Regions from separate parts of the Homo sapiens genome. Here region 2 is linked to region 1. The links come from fine-mapping of genetic effects on gene expression. Tissue or cell type: whole blood. Region 1 holds a variant in brackets; the other region holds the start of a gene. All regions are shown on one strand. Distances are between the middles of the regions.

Region 1 (8,426 bases):
AAATAGGGGATCCTTTCTCCATTGCTTGTTTTTGTCAGGTTTATCAAAGATCAGATGGCTGTAGATGTGTGGTGTTATTTCTGAGGCCTCTGTTCTATTCCATTGGTCTATATATCTGTTTTGGTACCAGTACCATGCTGTTTTGGTTACTGTAGCCTTGTAGTATAGTTTGAAGTCTGGTAGCATGATGCCTCCAGCTTTGTTCTTTTTGCTTAGGATTGTCTTGGCTATATGGTCTCTGTTTTGGTAACTTGGAACATTTTTCTCCAAGCATCTGCTTTCAGCATCTTTCTCCATCTTTATGGATGACAATTACCAATATATCAGGTTGCTTGGACTTGTCCACAGATCATGATGCTCTTTTCTTTCTTTCTGTTTCTCTCTCCTATAGCATCTTTTTTTTCTATGTACATTGACTGTGTGTACTTTGTGTTTCATTGTGGTTAGTTTCTTTTGCTGTGTCTCCAACTTCATGCCTATATGCTTCTGCAATGTGTAATCTGTTGTTCCTCCCATCCACTGTAGTTTTCATTTTAAACGTTGTAGCTTTTTTCCTCTAGAAGTTGGGTTTGAGTCTTTTATATATCATGAGTGTCTCTACTTAACTTTTGGACATACCTAATTCAGGTATAGTAATTTATAAATGTATTTGATAATTCTATATCTGTGTAAATCCTGGGTCAGTTTTTATGAATTTAATTTTTTCATCATCATATTATCACATTATTTAGAGATTTTAACTTTAATATTCCTGACTTCTTTTATCATGGGGTTTCTTGTATGCTTCATGAGTTAGAGCATCCTTCAGAAATCTTAAAAACTAATCAATGCATGAAAACTACCGGTGGAACAAAAAGGTTCAGCCACAGAAAACCACAGCATCATTTTGGTTTTAATATTTTTTTCACCCCCCTCCCCCCGCCCCACCACCAACAAATGTTATGTTTTGCGTTTTGGAAAATTTGTTTCTTAATTATAAAAACACACAATTTATTTTTCACATTAAAAAATTACATTGTTTAATGACAGAAACTCATGAATCCACAGTCACTCGGGGTCTGTCTGCTGGGCTCCACCAGCAGCAGCTGCACGCTCCCTGTGTGAGGATTCTGAGGTCCTCACATAGGGCAGGACACAAAGGTGAAGATGTGCTCTGTTCTACCTGCTTTGGTAGAAGTGGCATAGCTTTTCCCCTTGCAGTCTATCGGCCAGAAATGGCCACGTGGCCTCACCCACAGCAAGGGAGGCTGAGTGTATGGGGAACAATGTGGGGTGTTGTCGTCACAGCAGCTCCGCGGACAACACCTTCAGATCCTCAGGAGAAAGGAGCGATGCCGTAGTCATTAACTCATCTGTTTTCTCAACCTCAGCTCTAATCCATCAGGACATCGTATTGCCTCTACCTTTCAGATGTACCCAAACTTCAGCCACCCCTCGTGACCTCAGCCATTCTGGCCTGCGTCACAATAATCTCCATCTGGACTCCTGACGAATGTGCAGACTCCCTTCTCAACACTGGCCAGATATCTGCTGTGTCAGGCCAGACCCCTTCTCTACTCAAACCCTGCAGCATTTCCCTAGTTAAAGCAGATTGCCAAGGCTCTCCCAGAGCTGGGTCATGACCTGTAGAGATGGCATCTGAGCAAATTCTGATACTTAAAAAAAATTTTATTCTCCTTATTTTCATTCCACTTGAACCAAACAGCTTCACTGAGCATGCAGGACACAGGTCAGAGCCTTACCCTAGCTGTGCCTTTCTCTGGAATGTTCCTTTCCGAGGCAGCTCATGTCCACATCTGAGTGTAATGGAGGCTCAGACGTCACCTCCACAGGGATGCCCACCCTGACTGCACACTTAGCCTCGCAGCCTTGCTCACAACTGTGTCCAGGATCCCTTATTCTTACATACATAGTACCTTTTATCATTTAATTCCTACTCCACTTATTTATTGCAATTTTTATTGTTACTGACCTGTTTTATTACCCATCAGATTGTAAGTTCTACAGACACAGGGGAATTTGTCAGTAAGTGTATTATTGAATTCCAATCACTGGAATAAGACCTGGAAATACTTGGTACTTAATATATGTTCATTGAATGAATAAATCTCTGAGAAAAAATAGGGCAGTTCTGTTTCCTGATGCCCTAAGACATGTAGAGAATGCTACCCAAGGCACCCATTAATCATCGAGATAAAACGTTTAGACTCCCCTGAAGTTTTCGCCTATAGTTTACCTTTATAATTTGCTTCATTTTCAAGGCTGCCTTCACCCTTCATTTATTCGGATTTTTCCTTAGGAAAAGAGATCATGGGAAGGCATATCGGGGACGGAGCCCACGCTTCAGGGCCATTCTGCTGGGCTTTCCTACAGTGACCTCACCATCACCACCACCACCGACAACGACATCACAGCCCCGACCTCACCATCACCACCACCAATGACAACACTACAGCCCTGACCTCACCATCACCACCACCAACAACGACATCACAGCCCTGACCTCACCATCACCACCACCAATGACAACACTACAGCCCTGACCTCACCATCACCACCACCAATGACAATGACATCACAGCCCCGACCTCACCATCACCACCACCAATGACGATGCTACAGCCCCGACCTCACCATCACCACCACCAATGACAATGACATAACATCCCCGACCTCACCATCACCACCAATGACAACGACATCACAGCCCCGACCTCACCATCACCACCAATGACAATGACATCACAGCCCTGACCTCACCATCACTACCACCAATGACAACGACATCACAGCCCCAACCTCACCATTACCACCACCAACAACAATGACATCATGGCCCACAGGTGGCCAAACCCTTCAATCACCTGCAAACCAGCGACCCTCACTTTTGCTTCTGAAACTTATAAAAGCAAAAACAAAAAAACAGATTCTCAAACCCAAACCGTGGCAATTCTGGTTCAGCAGGTGTTAGTTGAGACCAGGCACTTTCATTTAAAATCACTACAGAAGTGTTTTTATGCACATCCAAAATTGAGAACCCCTGTGACAGCTCCTTAATATTCCCAAAGGGTTATTTAAGACTTACACATCTTTAAATGTGTGAGTACACAATGGTCGATGATCCTGCAATTCTCATTTATAAAAAGATGGCAGTCGTATCCAACTCCCGAGACGGCGAACCCGCACCATTTCCATGCGCGCTCTGTGCACAAGGCTGGCCTCACGTTGGCCAGCGACTCCCTCCCGGCGAGTCAGTTCTCAACTTGCTTCAGCAGAGGTGCATATGGTAGGGAGTGGCCCAACCTTTGGGATGGCCAGAGATCATCAGACCTGTGGGTCCATGTGCCGTTTGCTGTCATAAGTTCCTGTCATAACTCCCTGTGCGCCCATTTTGTTGGATGTGTTCACACTGTATTTTAGTTGCCAATGACTATATTTCAGTGTGTCTGCATAGAGGGCTGTGCTCTGTATTTCAGCATGTCCGCATGGAGAGCTGTGTGTGTTTCTATATTTCAGCGTGTCTGCATAGAGGCCTGTGGGTGTCTTCATATTTCAGTGTGTCTGCATAGAGGGCCGAGCTCCGTATGTCAGCGTGTCTGCATAGAGGCCTGTGGGTGTCTTCATATTTCAGTGTGTCTGCATAGAGGGCTGAGCTCCGTATGTCAGCGTGTCTGCATAGAGGCTGTGTGTGTCCCCTTAATCTTTGTTACTCTAGTTTTCAGATATTGTCTGGAACTGGAGAAGCCCCACATTTTATGATGGATAAATAAATAAAGGTTAAACGCAGGGCTGCGGAGCTCCGTTGCCTTCCTCGTAATTCTGCGAGACTCTGCGATATACTTTTCAGGGAGCATCACATTAGCTGTCACACACTGAGTGTCAACCAAAGCCACGCAAGGTGGCCTAAAATTAACGAGCTCGTTATGGAGGAGCCTCCACTAACGAAGTCAACAAATGCAAACTGGTTTGGTAACCTTCTGTAAAGAAAAGATCCATCATTGGTTAATA[T/C]TTATTGTATAGATTATGGCAAAATTTAAAAAATAAACAGTATTTACTGAAATTTTATACATTGTATTTGTTCACTCATGATTTCAACATTTATTATCTCGTGTGCTCCAGACACCGGGCTGGTGACACCAGGGTCCAGATCACACTTTCCCTGTCCTCGCACTGGGGGGAAAGAAGAATAAATACCTTTATCTAAAACATAGTTACAAATAATAGCAAATCCTTTGAAAGGAACAAAACAGAATGAGATGGGTGTCTTACATCTGATGTGGGTGGGACAAGTCCTCTCTCAGGAGGAAATATTTTGGGCCAACTCTTCCTTGCCTTGGCAAATATGACTTAGTGAAGTAATGGATTTTTCATGCAGGGTGTTGAAAGGCTCAGGGTGCTCGCCCACATCAGTGAGGGAGGTGCAGCTGATGAAGGAAGTGCTGGGTGCAGAAGGGGATGCTCTGAAATGGTGGCTTCTGTTTGCAGTTTCAAAGCTCAGGTAATTTTCTTGTGCTTTATCTACTTATGCCTAAATTCAGAGGAAGGATAAAGAAAAAACAAACAATAATATTGAATTCTACTTCGGGTGAGACATTATGCTTGTTGCTTTTATGTCTGTCATCTACTTAGATCATAAAAACCCCGTGTGGTCTGACACATTATTTCTAGTTTACAGGTGAATAAATTAAATTCATAGACTAATATTACCTGAGTCCTAGAAATGGGCTTTAACTCAGGTATTGCTGACATCTAGATCAGTGCAGTAGAACTTTAGTTAATTCCAGTTATAAAATAGCTATTAATTAGGGTTTTCATTGGCTTAAATGTTTAAAACTGAGTTGTCACCTGTTTATTTTATTTTATTTTATTTTATTTTTGAGACAGGGCCTTTCTCTGTTGCCCAGACTGGAGTGCAGTGGCGTGATAGCAGCTCTCTGCAGCCTCAAACTCTTGGGCTGAAAAGATATTCCCATTTCAGCTTCCTGAGTAGCTGAGACTACAAGTACACATCACCACACTTGGCTAATTCTTTTTTTTCTTTTTCTGAGACAGAGTCCTGCTCTGATGCCCAGGCTAGAATACAGTGGCACGATCTCAGCTCACTCCAGTCTCCACCATCCCAGGTTCAAGTGATTCTCCTGCCTCAGCTTCCTGAGTAGCTGGGATTACAGGTGCCCGCCACCACACCCAACTAATTTTTGTAGAGACAGGGTTTCACCATCTTGGCCAGGCTGGTCTTGAACTCCTGACCTCGTGATCCACCTGCCTCTGCCTCCCAAAGTGCTGGGATTACAAGTGTGAGCCACCACGCCTGGCTGGATAATTTTTTATATACGTTTTGTAGAGACAGTGCCTTGCTATGTTGCCCAGGCTGATCTTGAACTCCTGGCCTCAAGCAATCCTCTCCCTTCAGCCTCCAAAAGCCCTGAGATTACGGGCCTGAGCCACCATGCCCGGCCAGTTTTGTTTTTTATCTTAAATGTGTATTTGTGAATTATTTTGCAATGGTTGGCGGGCTCACAGACCCTGAAAAGGCTTGTACTTTTGGTAGAAAGGCATGAGCAACACACAAAAATATCTGCAAACAGACATGGCTTTTTTCCTCAACATGTTCTAAATCATTTGAAAACTTTTAATTTTCAAAATTAAAGGCCTGAGTAAAATTCCAGCTGACAAATCCACCTCTTATTCTCCCTTGGTAATTAATCATGAGATGGTAAACACAGAAGACCTTCAGTGAAGTTGAAGCCTTTACTATACGAAGGTTCTAGTGAGGGGAGTGCAAAGTGGGGCCGCAGGACAGACACCTGCTCTGATGACCACGGAACATGGCGTGGTGGAGTCAATGTGTGGAAACTCAGCAATGGTGTGAGTCTCGCGTGGAGCTGCCGACCCATCGCTTCCTCATGGGAAAGATTTTTCCACTTGGGCTCCACTTATCGCACTCAAGAAACACTGGATATTCTGGGAAACTCTTGGAGGGCAGGCAAAAACCATCCTCCCTCAGACATGGAGCATTGACTAAGCTGCTTGTACCTGGGCAGTGTCTGTTTTAAGTATTAACTAAAAATCATTTCCAAGGGAAGCAACATAGGAAACAGGAATTAAAAATGCAAATGCTGAATGCTGTGTGTGTGCACATTTGAAGGGGCCAGACCACTCTCCACTTTGATTTATGCGTAAACGCAACTATCCCTCCCTGTACTCACCCCTTAAGCCCACATGACCGCTGAACAATGACCCCAGTCAAATCTCAGCCACTCCTCTTTCCTCACTCAAAAGCCACCATGGCCGAGTTCCTCGGGTCTAGCTGCTGCTCTGGGCTTCCGATGGCCTTGAAACCCCATGTTTGTCCCTGTGCTTCTGTCAAGTCATTTTTCCACAGCGTTCTGGGGCCACAGGTGAAGGGTGAGGCATCTGCAGGTGTTGAGGTGCCTGCAGGGACCTCTCAGGGGACGCCTGCTGGTGTCTGCGTGGCGTGAACACTGTTCTATTTGGACCCAGCCTGGGAATGACCTTAGGCCACTTACCTGTCCTCATCTACAACAGGGACTTTTAATATCTGGGATAGAAATGCTTTTGTTCTGTAGGTTTTGTTTATGGTGTTATGATTGTATGTTTATTATCCATTAATTTATTTATTCAAAATATCATTGAGCAAATATTTGCTTCCAAATATTCCATTAGATATTTCATATATATTCTATTATTTAATTCTCATAATATTATGGGATGGTGAGAACGTGCAAAAATGGAGGTTGGAAGTAGCGAGTCGCCCAGTCACACTCGACTCCTAAGGAAGACAATTTAGATTGAATCTGGGTCTTCTGATGAAAAATCTACTTTCTCCTATTCATATTGTTGCCATTTTATGGCATATTATGTTTTTATAATCCTAACAATTTATTAACATATAAAACCTGACACACAACAGCAGGCACGAGGGTAACATAGCAGATGCCGGTAGCACCATCACGGTTCCACGTCAGCCGTCCCCCAGAGGCTGCAAACTCCAGTTTTAAGATAGAATGTTTTTTCCTGCTCCTCTATCCCAGTACGTGAAATTCCTACATGGCGATCCACACCCTATGTCTCCCTCCTGAAGGTGTCATGATCCACGCCGACCCTGGGTAACCCTGGGTAGAGGCTGAGTGAGTTCCAGTGGTGACTGGGAGAAAATCTCCCTGTGATGGGAACTGGGCTTCAGACTTACTTGTTCCAGAGAAAATAATGTGACTCTTCGTGTCTTCCTGAGTTTATCTGTGAAACTGGCCAGTGTTTACTGAGTGTAGCACATGCAACCTGCACTTCTGGGCGCTGGAGACACGGGTGAGCACGTGACAAGCACACGCCCGCTCTGACCCACCGCGGGGTGGGACACACCTCAGAGTCATCATGATGAAGAAAATGCCAGAGAATTTTGTCTGCCCTTAATTTCTTATTAAATCACCCTAAAGGTGGGCATCCCCAGATCTTTTGGAAGACATCCATGTTCTCCAGGTAGAAGCCTCTGTTCTGTTTGGTCAGGAAGAGGTGTCCTGCTCTGGCCGTTCCAATATTCAGGAAACAGGTTCCTGTGTTGGGCTTCTCTCCCTTCCGTTTTTAGCCTTCTTTGCTACTACTCATCACCTCGGGCCAGGTTAGTACTTCCCTTCTCCATAAAGACATTCTTAGGGCATCTGCCTCGATGACACTCTCCCTTCCATGAGCATCTATTGCTCAGACATCTTTTCAGCAATACTAGAGTCTGGCCATCATACCAAATGCTAGGAGAAACTTAATACCCACATTTAAGAAGTGCACCATCAAATGTGGAAAACAAATGTTTAGACACATAATCTGCTATGGACATTTCATTGAAAGTGGATACAAGGTGAAGAGGGAGAAAGAGGAAGTCCACCCTGTCCATCCAAAAGGAGCTGACGGAAGGCTAAGTGAACACCACCTGAGTTCTGAAGGAAGCGCGGGATGCACCTGCAGGAGGCGGCTGGAGAGGGGTGCACAGGCTCCACACGTATCCGCTTGGTCCCACGGGTGCTGCCAGTGAGGCCAGCTGTAGCCAGGGGTAATCTGATGTCATTGCCCTTGTTCAAGACAAAGCAATGATGAGGTTGGCATTTAATGTCATCAATAGCAATTAGCTGCATAGGAAATTAATGACCAATTGAATTAATTCAAGCATTAACTCTTTACGAATTCTTCCTCCAAATATTGAGAACGTCTTCACGGAAGTGCTTTTGTGCAGAGTTCACATGGGAAGTTTTAAGGACTTAAGATGAATTCATTGCACTTAACTACTTAGGAAATAAACTGTCTTGTACCTGGTTATGAATATAATGCAGGCAATTCCCAGTAGTCATGATATTTGCTTGCTCTTCTAAAGAAATGTGACCACTGGATCCATAGAAGAAAATGGACTTTCCTGC
Region 2 (8,220 bases), 200 kb after region 1:
TCACAGCTAATCAGAAGGCTGAGGCAGGAGAATTGTTTCAACCAGCGAGGTAGAGCTTGCAGTGAGCCGAGATCGCGCCACTGCACTCCAGCCTAGGCGACAAGAGTGAGACTCTATCTCAAAATAAATAAATAAAATAAAAAATAAAAATAAAAATAAAAATAAAAATAAAAAAGAAATCATGCTAGTTTTGCTATCACATTTCAAACTGCAAACGTTACGGCTGCAGTGAGTGATAAGTGCCTATTTAAGACGGAAAAGACGCTGAACTTGTAGGTAGAAGACATGAGCGGAAAGGTGTTCCCACCGAGGGCACGTCAGCGCAGAAAGCACAATCCCATGGGAAGACTTCAGCAGTCAGTCCCCCAAAGTGAGTGACACTGAGCCATTCATGGCAAGTGAGGCATAGCTACACTGATTTAGGAGTGGGCTTGTCACGAAACCAAAAACCAAAAACCAAAAAACTGGAGAGGCTGTGTTTGCCAGTGAAGAAGCTGCTGCCATATTTCCGGCAGAGTTGAAGTTGATTAAAGGGAAAGGATGCCATCCAAAGCAAGTCTTCAATTGCAGTGAGACCAGGCTCCTCTGGAAGAAGATACCCAACAGAACCTACGTTCTTGAAAGGGCAAAGAAGGCCCCAGGGCATAAAACACTGAAGGGCTGATTTACCCTGTGCCGTGTGCAATGCTGTAGGACGTGTGGCCAAGCCAGGTGTGCTGCACACACAGAGGAACACTTATGCTCAAAAAACAAACGTTACCTGCTTGTGTTCAGGCAACATAACCAGAAAGCATGAGTGGTAACCACCATGTTTATGGAAGGGCTCCACCAGTACTTCCTCCCAAAGCCTTGGAAGGGGGAAGGTTGGAATATAAAGTCTCATTAGTAACAGACAATGTACCTGGCCATTCTGAATATGTTGACTATAAAAATGACAAGGCCAAGGTTGTATTATTATTAAGACCGGGTCTCACTCTGTCGCCCAAGCTGGAGCGCAGTGGCATGATCTCGGCTCAATGCAACCTCCGCCTCCAGGGTTCAAGGGATTCTCCAGCCTCAGCATCCCTAGTAGCTGGGACCACAGGTGCATGCCACCATGCCTGGCTAATTTTTGTATTTTTTTGTAGAGACGCGGTTTTACCATGTTGCCCAGGCTGGTCTCAAACACCTGAGCTCAAAGCAATCTACCTGCCTTGGCCTCCCGAATTGCTGGGATTACAGGTGTGAAGCACTGTGCCCGGCCTCAAGGTTGTATTTTTACCTTGAAATACAACCTCATTGCTCCTGCCTTTTGACCAGGGCATCTTCCAGTTTGTCTAGGCCACATACATCAGTTTGGTCAGCAATTGATGCATACATATATATGCATATATATATATATATATATATGCATGCAATTGATACATATATATATGCATGCAATTGATACATATATATACACACATACATAGTTCAGTACTATCCACGGTATCAGGCAGCCACTGGGGGTCTTGGAACATACCCATGAGGATGAGGGGTTACTGGAGTTTTTTGTACTACATTTAGAAAGTTTCTGTAAATTCAGAATTATTTCAAAGTTAAAAGTTAATAAAGAGACACTAACTGCAACTGGTTTTAGACACATCTCAGAATCAAAGCTATACTCATCACAAAAACCAGAAAGTTGAATTTTGGTAACCTCATGGGGGACATTCCCTCGCAGAGTTTCAGGATAGTCAGGGTTTTACTTTTTATTGTTATTGTTATTGCAGTAGAACCCTAGTATTTAAAATAAGCAAAATAACCCTTACGTGCAGTCCTGACACAGATGCATAAAAGCAGATAGGCAGTTAAAACTTGAATTAATTAGCCTTTCAAAAGCAGCCCCAGAGCGCCTACGACGTCCTGGAATCACAAAATTTTATTATAGAAAGGATTCCAGAGATTGTTAGCCAAAACTACATTATTTTACAAATGAATTAACAATTACCTTTGGTCTGAAAAACAAAAATATATGTGTCTATTCATTTAACGATAAAATTTTAACAAAAACTTGTCTCTCAAAGTCAACATTTATGCATGCAACACGCTGTTTTTCCTTCTTCAGGCCCTGGAATAGAATGTCCCTTTGCAAGGTAATGAGACAATATCTTTGTGCTATTTGTAGACATTTAATTTCTCAGAGATTATATGCACGCTCTTTTAAAAATGCAATTTAAAGGCAAACAATAATCTCTTGTACTTTTTCTTATTCTAGGTTTTGCTACAAATAAAAAGTAATACAATATTTTTTACCAATTCACCCAAGAAGCATATTTTGTAACAGCCACTGTGCCACGTATAAAAAGACCTGGTTTTTGCTATTCAAGAGCTTGTCCTCTGGTTAAACTGAGTGCTAAGAAGTGCTGGCAGACTGCCGTGAAGGTGAAACAGGAATACAGAGAATAGAGAAATGGGGAAGGGCGTCTGTGTTCGAAACCCAGGTCTGCTCAGGGGTCAAGCAAGTCGGAGTCAGAAAAAGTAAAGTGTTTAACATCGAGTTTTCAATATTTATTTGTTTACAATGCGTCACATTCTGCTCCTAGATAGGGTTAACCTCTGAAGACCTCAGATTTCGCTGCTTTTCCTTGCCGTGGAGAGGGAATAAAACGGGCATCGTGGCCTCCGCGATGGGCGCTCGTGCCTGGGTCGAAGGACTGGGGGGCGGAGGATTTGGAAAGGGAGAAAAATACGGGCTGGCTTCTTTTTAAAAAATGTGGGTAGCCTTGCCTGCCCCCGCCGCACTGGAATTTATCCTAAACTTACTTTCATTTACATTAAAACAAGACGATTTGAGTCTACCAAACCCAATACTGCATCTGTGAGGCTCCTTTTGGCACAAACCTGAATGAACAGCGGGAAACGCCGTCTCCCCTGGCGTCTGAGATCTGGGGTCCCCTCCCCACCTGGTCTCCTCGCTCCCGCCCCAGCCCCGTGCGCCCCAGGAGGGCACCGCCGAGCGCCGGGTCCCCGCAGGGTTCGGGAGACTCCGCGGACCGGAGGAGGGATAGGACCCCCGAGCTTTGGGGGCGGGAAGGGAGGGTGGAAGGAGGAGGGGAGCGGGGTTGGGGAAAGTTGGAGCTTCGGTATCTTTTCTCCGGGCCAGGCCGTCCTCGGGGCCCTGCGCTGCGTCTCCAAGTGCTGGGAAGACTCCGCGGGGAAAGGTCTGAGGACGCGGCCGGCTGGCACAGGTGTGGCGGCTTCAGAGGGCCGGGGAGAACCCATGGCTTCGAGGCTGTGGACTAGAAATGTCCCTGATTAGAAGCTGAGAACCTTTGGCCAGGGAGGTGGGGCGGCGGGGAGGGGTCGTCAAGCCGGTCCAGAGCGCGCCCACCTGCGCCACAAGGGAGAAGAGGTGCCCCCCGCCCCCCTCCGCCCACCGCCGCCACGATGCGCCGCGGACCTCGGCGACCCAGCCCGGGTAGAAGCGCGCGCTCCCCTCCTCCAGCCTCGTGCGCCGGCCCCTGCCCCGCCAGCCCCGCTATGGTCCCCCATCCACCCCCGCGGGAGCGCCCCTGTCCCCCCATCCTGCACTTCCCCCAGAGTCGCGCGCCAGTTTCCCGCCCCGTGGAAGCGCCCCTCTCCCGACTTCGGCTGATCCCCGCTCGCCGCCCTCCCCGCGGGTGCGCGCCCGGCCCCTCCCTCGCCCGGGGCGGGTCTGCGTGGGCGGTGCTCCGGGTCGGCGGGCGGAGCTCCGGTTCCCCAGCCCTGCGCCCCGGTGGAGCCCGAGCCGGAGCCGGCAGAGGGGCGCGGGCGCGGACGCGGCGCCTGGCGGGGCCCTGGGAGGCTCGGACGGGGTCCTGGCGTTGAGCTCGGCCGGCCCGGAGCGCGGACCCAGCCGCAGGGGCGGCGATGGGCACCGAGGGACCCCCGCCCCCGGCCGCCTCCCGCGGACGCCAGGGCTGCCTGCTGGTACCTGCGCGGGTGAGTGCGGCCCCTCAGCGCCCCTTCACCTCCGGCCCCCCTTCCCTCTCCTTCGCGCCCTTCTCCCCCCGCCCCTCCTCCCTCCACGCCCCCTCGCTCCCCGCGACCCCTTCCCTGTCTCCGGGGACGGCTGGCCGGAGGGTGGGCGCCGGAGCCCCGGGACGCAGTGGGCACCCGCCCCCTGGCCGCTCTGCTCCCTCCAGCCCAGTGTCTTACTGGAAACTTGCAGGCTTTGCTCCTCCAGCGTCTTCCAAGGTTTGGTTTTGAGGCGCCCGGGCTTCCCTTTACTGCGTGGGAAGTAGTGCTTTCCAGAATTTGGGATTTGAGATTGGCCCGGCATTGCTTCCCAGGAGCGGCTCTTTCGGGCCCAGGCGGTGGCTCGGACCGGAGCGTCCCCCCTGCAGCCTTCGGGCGCCCAGGCCAGGTCTGAGTTGGCCAGTTTGAGCCCAGCCAGGTGCATGGCGCGGCCTCGGCAGGTGCTGGGGGCTCTAGGCCATTCGGGGAACCGCTGGGACGCCAACTGGGTAATACGGATTTCTTTTTTGAAGTCTATTCTGGTTCCCACCCTAAATAACTCCCTCTTCACCTTCTTATTTTTAAATAACTAAACTATTGATTGACAGAAAACAGAAATGTTGGCCCAAAGAAAAACGAAAAGTTCTTGGAAACCTTCAAGTTGCCACCCACAGCACAGCCTCGAGTTGTGAAAACAGTTTAAGGGAGCACGTGGCCACCCCAGCCCTAGGAGGCTGCCGAGAAGCGCGGCTGTTAATGAAAATGCATTGACAACCACTCCTTTAGGATTCCTTCCCCAGGAGCTCCCAGTCCCAGGAGCGACCAGGAATACAGTTAGCCCTCCCTTATAGGACAGTGGAGAGACGGTTCAGAAGGCCACGGGTTGAGGGCTGCTACAAATTCCTATCGTCATAATAATGATTCTAAACTAGGACTGTGGTCGTCGCTACTGTGATGTTAAAAAGATTTCTATGTAGAGACAGGTGCATCTTCATTCAAGTAGCACCTTTCTGGGCTTTTACTACAAAATATGAAAATTAAATTTCATGTAAAATGTGGGTGTTCGTTTCTTGAAGTACTTTGTAATATGAATAGCTATCCCACTGTTGCCCATGGTAATCAAACCCGAGAAAATATGCGGGGATTACCTGGAAATAAACCGCAGTAAAAACTGCAGGCGCTGTGGAATCACAGGCTTTCCGTCTGGTCACTGCCTTCAGCTTTATAATGATGCCCTCCCACGGTTAGGGATTGTGCATTTTTCTCCAGACATTCGAGCAAAGCAATTCTTGCTTTTAATCATTGTAATTATAGCGGAAGCGTTGAAGTGGATTCATCATACTTCATGATTGACCCACTTGATGAGTTATTGGCAATAACGTCAACAAATAAAGCAACTGCGCGTATTCTAGTAAATGCTCTCCTTTGCGCTCAGTATTAATTAAGGTGCTAAATTTGATGTTTTCCAGTCAAGAGTGGCCTCTGCTCACCTGTTTGCTACAAGATGTGATTGGCGCTTTCTTTCTAATAAGGACCTTGATTATTTGAAACAGCCTGTCTGAATTGTATTGAAAGAAACTTTTTTTTTAGCGTTGGAGGCCAAGTATTACAATAAGATGGAGCATTTTAAGAGCAAGACTCCTAACTTTGCAGTCATAAGTAATTAGGTATGTGCTAAGCCTACCTTAGACACCAGTGCATGGTCATGTTAGCTCAGATTCTTATGTATTTAAAACGAATCTGTTAAGTATTGGTGTTGGCAGGTTTGTCTTGAAAACATGAATGTTCTTAGTATACAATGTCATCCTTACTTAATGGCAGAATTATTTTCTTACCATAACTGCACAATATTATTCAACTTGTGTAATTATTTAATCATTTCAGTTAAGAGAACTTGGTGCTTTTAACTAGAAAAAGATGAAAGTCTTTTCTAAATCTTATATTTCTAGTTATATTTTTTCTATCTGAAGTCAAAACTATACACATTCTTTATCATGACTGCTTGTTTGAATCATGGAATTTGGCCACGTTTGAAGGTCTCCTGTTCGGTAACAGACCTGTTTTGTTTCCCCTTTCAAGTGCCTGTTCCCGATGTTTTTTTCTAAGTTAAGTGAGTTCATGGAGCTCTGTCTCTGACCATACCTGGATTTGAGGGGTAAAATCCCACTGGCAGACAACCTCAGTACAATGTGCGAAGTGTGTCTTGCTTGTAGCTTCAAAGACTACTATTGGTTGATGTTTACAGCACATTTGCTGCTTTTAAATGACAACACTTCTTCAGTCTGGGGCGCTGGAAGAATTATTGGCATGAGCCGGGAACATGCCCATTTATGTGATGAGCTTGCCCACTGAAGGGGGAAAGCACGTTAGGTCATTTTAAAGGTGCATGTGGGGTAAGGGCACCACCTAATCATCTGTTTACAGATGTGAATTGCTGCATGAGATGAATGAAGCATCTGAGCTCCTAAGAAGGTTCCCCATTCCTTCTATGCTTTGGTTATGTTTCTCATCCTTGCTGACTCATCTTTAATTTCAACTGTAGAATTTCTATTGACGTCTATGACATCATAAGCAAAATCCATGCATTACAAAGCAGGCAGTTACCTGACTTTACCAGGAGACATGGAGACATGTTCCCCAGTAAATATTTGAATGAGGTCCAATTAAGAAAAGTGTGCCTTGTTTTTGTTTTTGTTTTTTTCCAACATGGGATGTTAAAATTGCCTTGTTTTCTGAATGGTGTATGTGGAGCAACAGCTTCTTGTCTCTGGATATCTTTATGGATGATGACTGTAGACAAGGCATTTAAGCTTCAGTTTTAATTTAGATCTGCTTCTCAAGATACCCCATGAGGCTCTGAGTGAGTTGGCAGAGGGGCTGGCATTGCAGTTCTCGGTGACAGAGGGTGTGTTTGCATCGCAGGCCTCCTATTTACTAAATGGGTATATTCAGGATAGACTTACTAAGCAGTGTGATTTTCTGGCTTTCCTGTTAGCTCATGTAGCATGTGACAGCAGGCACACGAGGGACCCCAAAGAGGAGCTGCTCTCAGGCTCTGCTGCGCACCCCTAGCTCCTGCGCTGCTGGGCATGGGGCGGACACAGGCAGGTGCTCGTGGAAATGGAGAAGGAAGGAGGGAGATCAGGGTTCCAGGGAACTCAGAGAACCCCGGCTTCGGGAACCACCATCCTCTCTGGCTCTGGCTTCTCACCTGTGGAATGTGTGCTTGGGTTCCGAAGGTCACTTTGTATCTGATTCCAAATCCCTCAGAAACTCACTCTTTAATTAGTTCTAGAGGTATTTTTGTTGAGTGAGACACAACAAGGAAGGTGGAAAACATGCTTTTGGAGGAAAAATGCACTCAGGATTTAATGGAAAATGGACCTTGAACTGGTGTGTACTTGTCATTGTTGTCCAGCTGGTTACCGCATGTTGTCATGACTGTAGTTTTGAATAGTCGACTTTGGATTATTTTCAGCTAACACTAGATGTCACTTTCCCCCAGTCCATACTAAAGTTCCCTGTAAAATTCAGGAAGCCGAGGTTATCCTTCCTATTTCTGTATTAAATGCTAAGCTCCCCTATGTGGGTGTAATCCCTCACCTGAGGACTGACCCCAGCCTGTGGCTCTTCATCCCCTGCCCCTCTGAACAAGAAGGCCCTCCAAAAGCTCACCCATTTCTGGCTGCCTTCCAGGGACCGTGCTGCTTCTTCACCCCATCAGCCTGAACCTTCCTGTTTTCTCCCCTTGCACATTTTAATAAATACTGTTAACAATGCTGTGAATATGAGGATGTGATTTTGCAATTAGAATTACATGTTAAAATAGTTTGCTTTTTAAGGAGTCTACATTTTTACATCCTATAAATATGATTATAAACTAGCTACATTTTAATTTAGCAAAGACTTTGGATTTAAGAAAGTGAGTATGCTTCTTATTTAGGGGATACTGTTCTAAACATTTGTAAAATGTAAAGTTATATTTTTAGTGCAAAAACTATTAAACTTCACAGTCTGCTAACTGCTAAACTGCTAAGTTTTAATTCTGTTTTATCTGTTATACTTTGTAAAGAAACTGCATGTCATTCACTTCTCTGGACTTGAAACCTAGATCAGTGCATGGCCTGTTATTTTGCAATAATCCGCATTAGTGTTAATGAAAAAGGTGACCCTCCACTGTCAAGATTCTGAGTATCAACTCTGGGAGTTACCAACATTCACTCGACATTTGGGTGAACATCATTTGATGATGGCACCGAATCG

Evidence for each region. PIP is the estimated chance that this variant, and not a neighbour inherited with it, causes the effect.
Region 2: SNTG2-AS1 starts here. The variant in region 1 is fine-mapped to the expression of SNTG2-AS1 in whole blood (TOPMed, PIP 0.96).

What each region holds. Positions count from the first base shown.
Region 1 is chr2:745,359-753,784 of GRCh38, forward strand. LOC105373480 (a long non-coding RNA gene) reads left to right here. Exons shown (of 5, transcript XR_007086128.1): 2 at 4,376-4,498. Among named protein-coding and RNA genes, the nearest start is that of TMEM18, 72 kb to the left of the region's middle. The variant T/C (reference allele first, on the strand shown) is at 4,009.
Region 2 is chr2:947,127-955,346 of GRCh38, forward strand. It overlaps SNTG2-AS1 (SNTG2 antisense RNA 1), which reads right to left and starts at 4,266. Exons shown (of 3, transcript NR_136151.1): 1 at 4,159-4,266; 2 at 2,785-3,260; 3 at 2,508-2,675. SNTG2 (syntrophin gamma 2) reads left to right here and starts at 3,723. Exons shown (of 17, transcript NM_018968.4): 1 at 3,723-3,942. The coding sequence starts at 3,871. RefSeq lists a silencer at 3,632-3,761.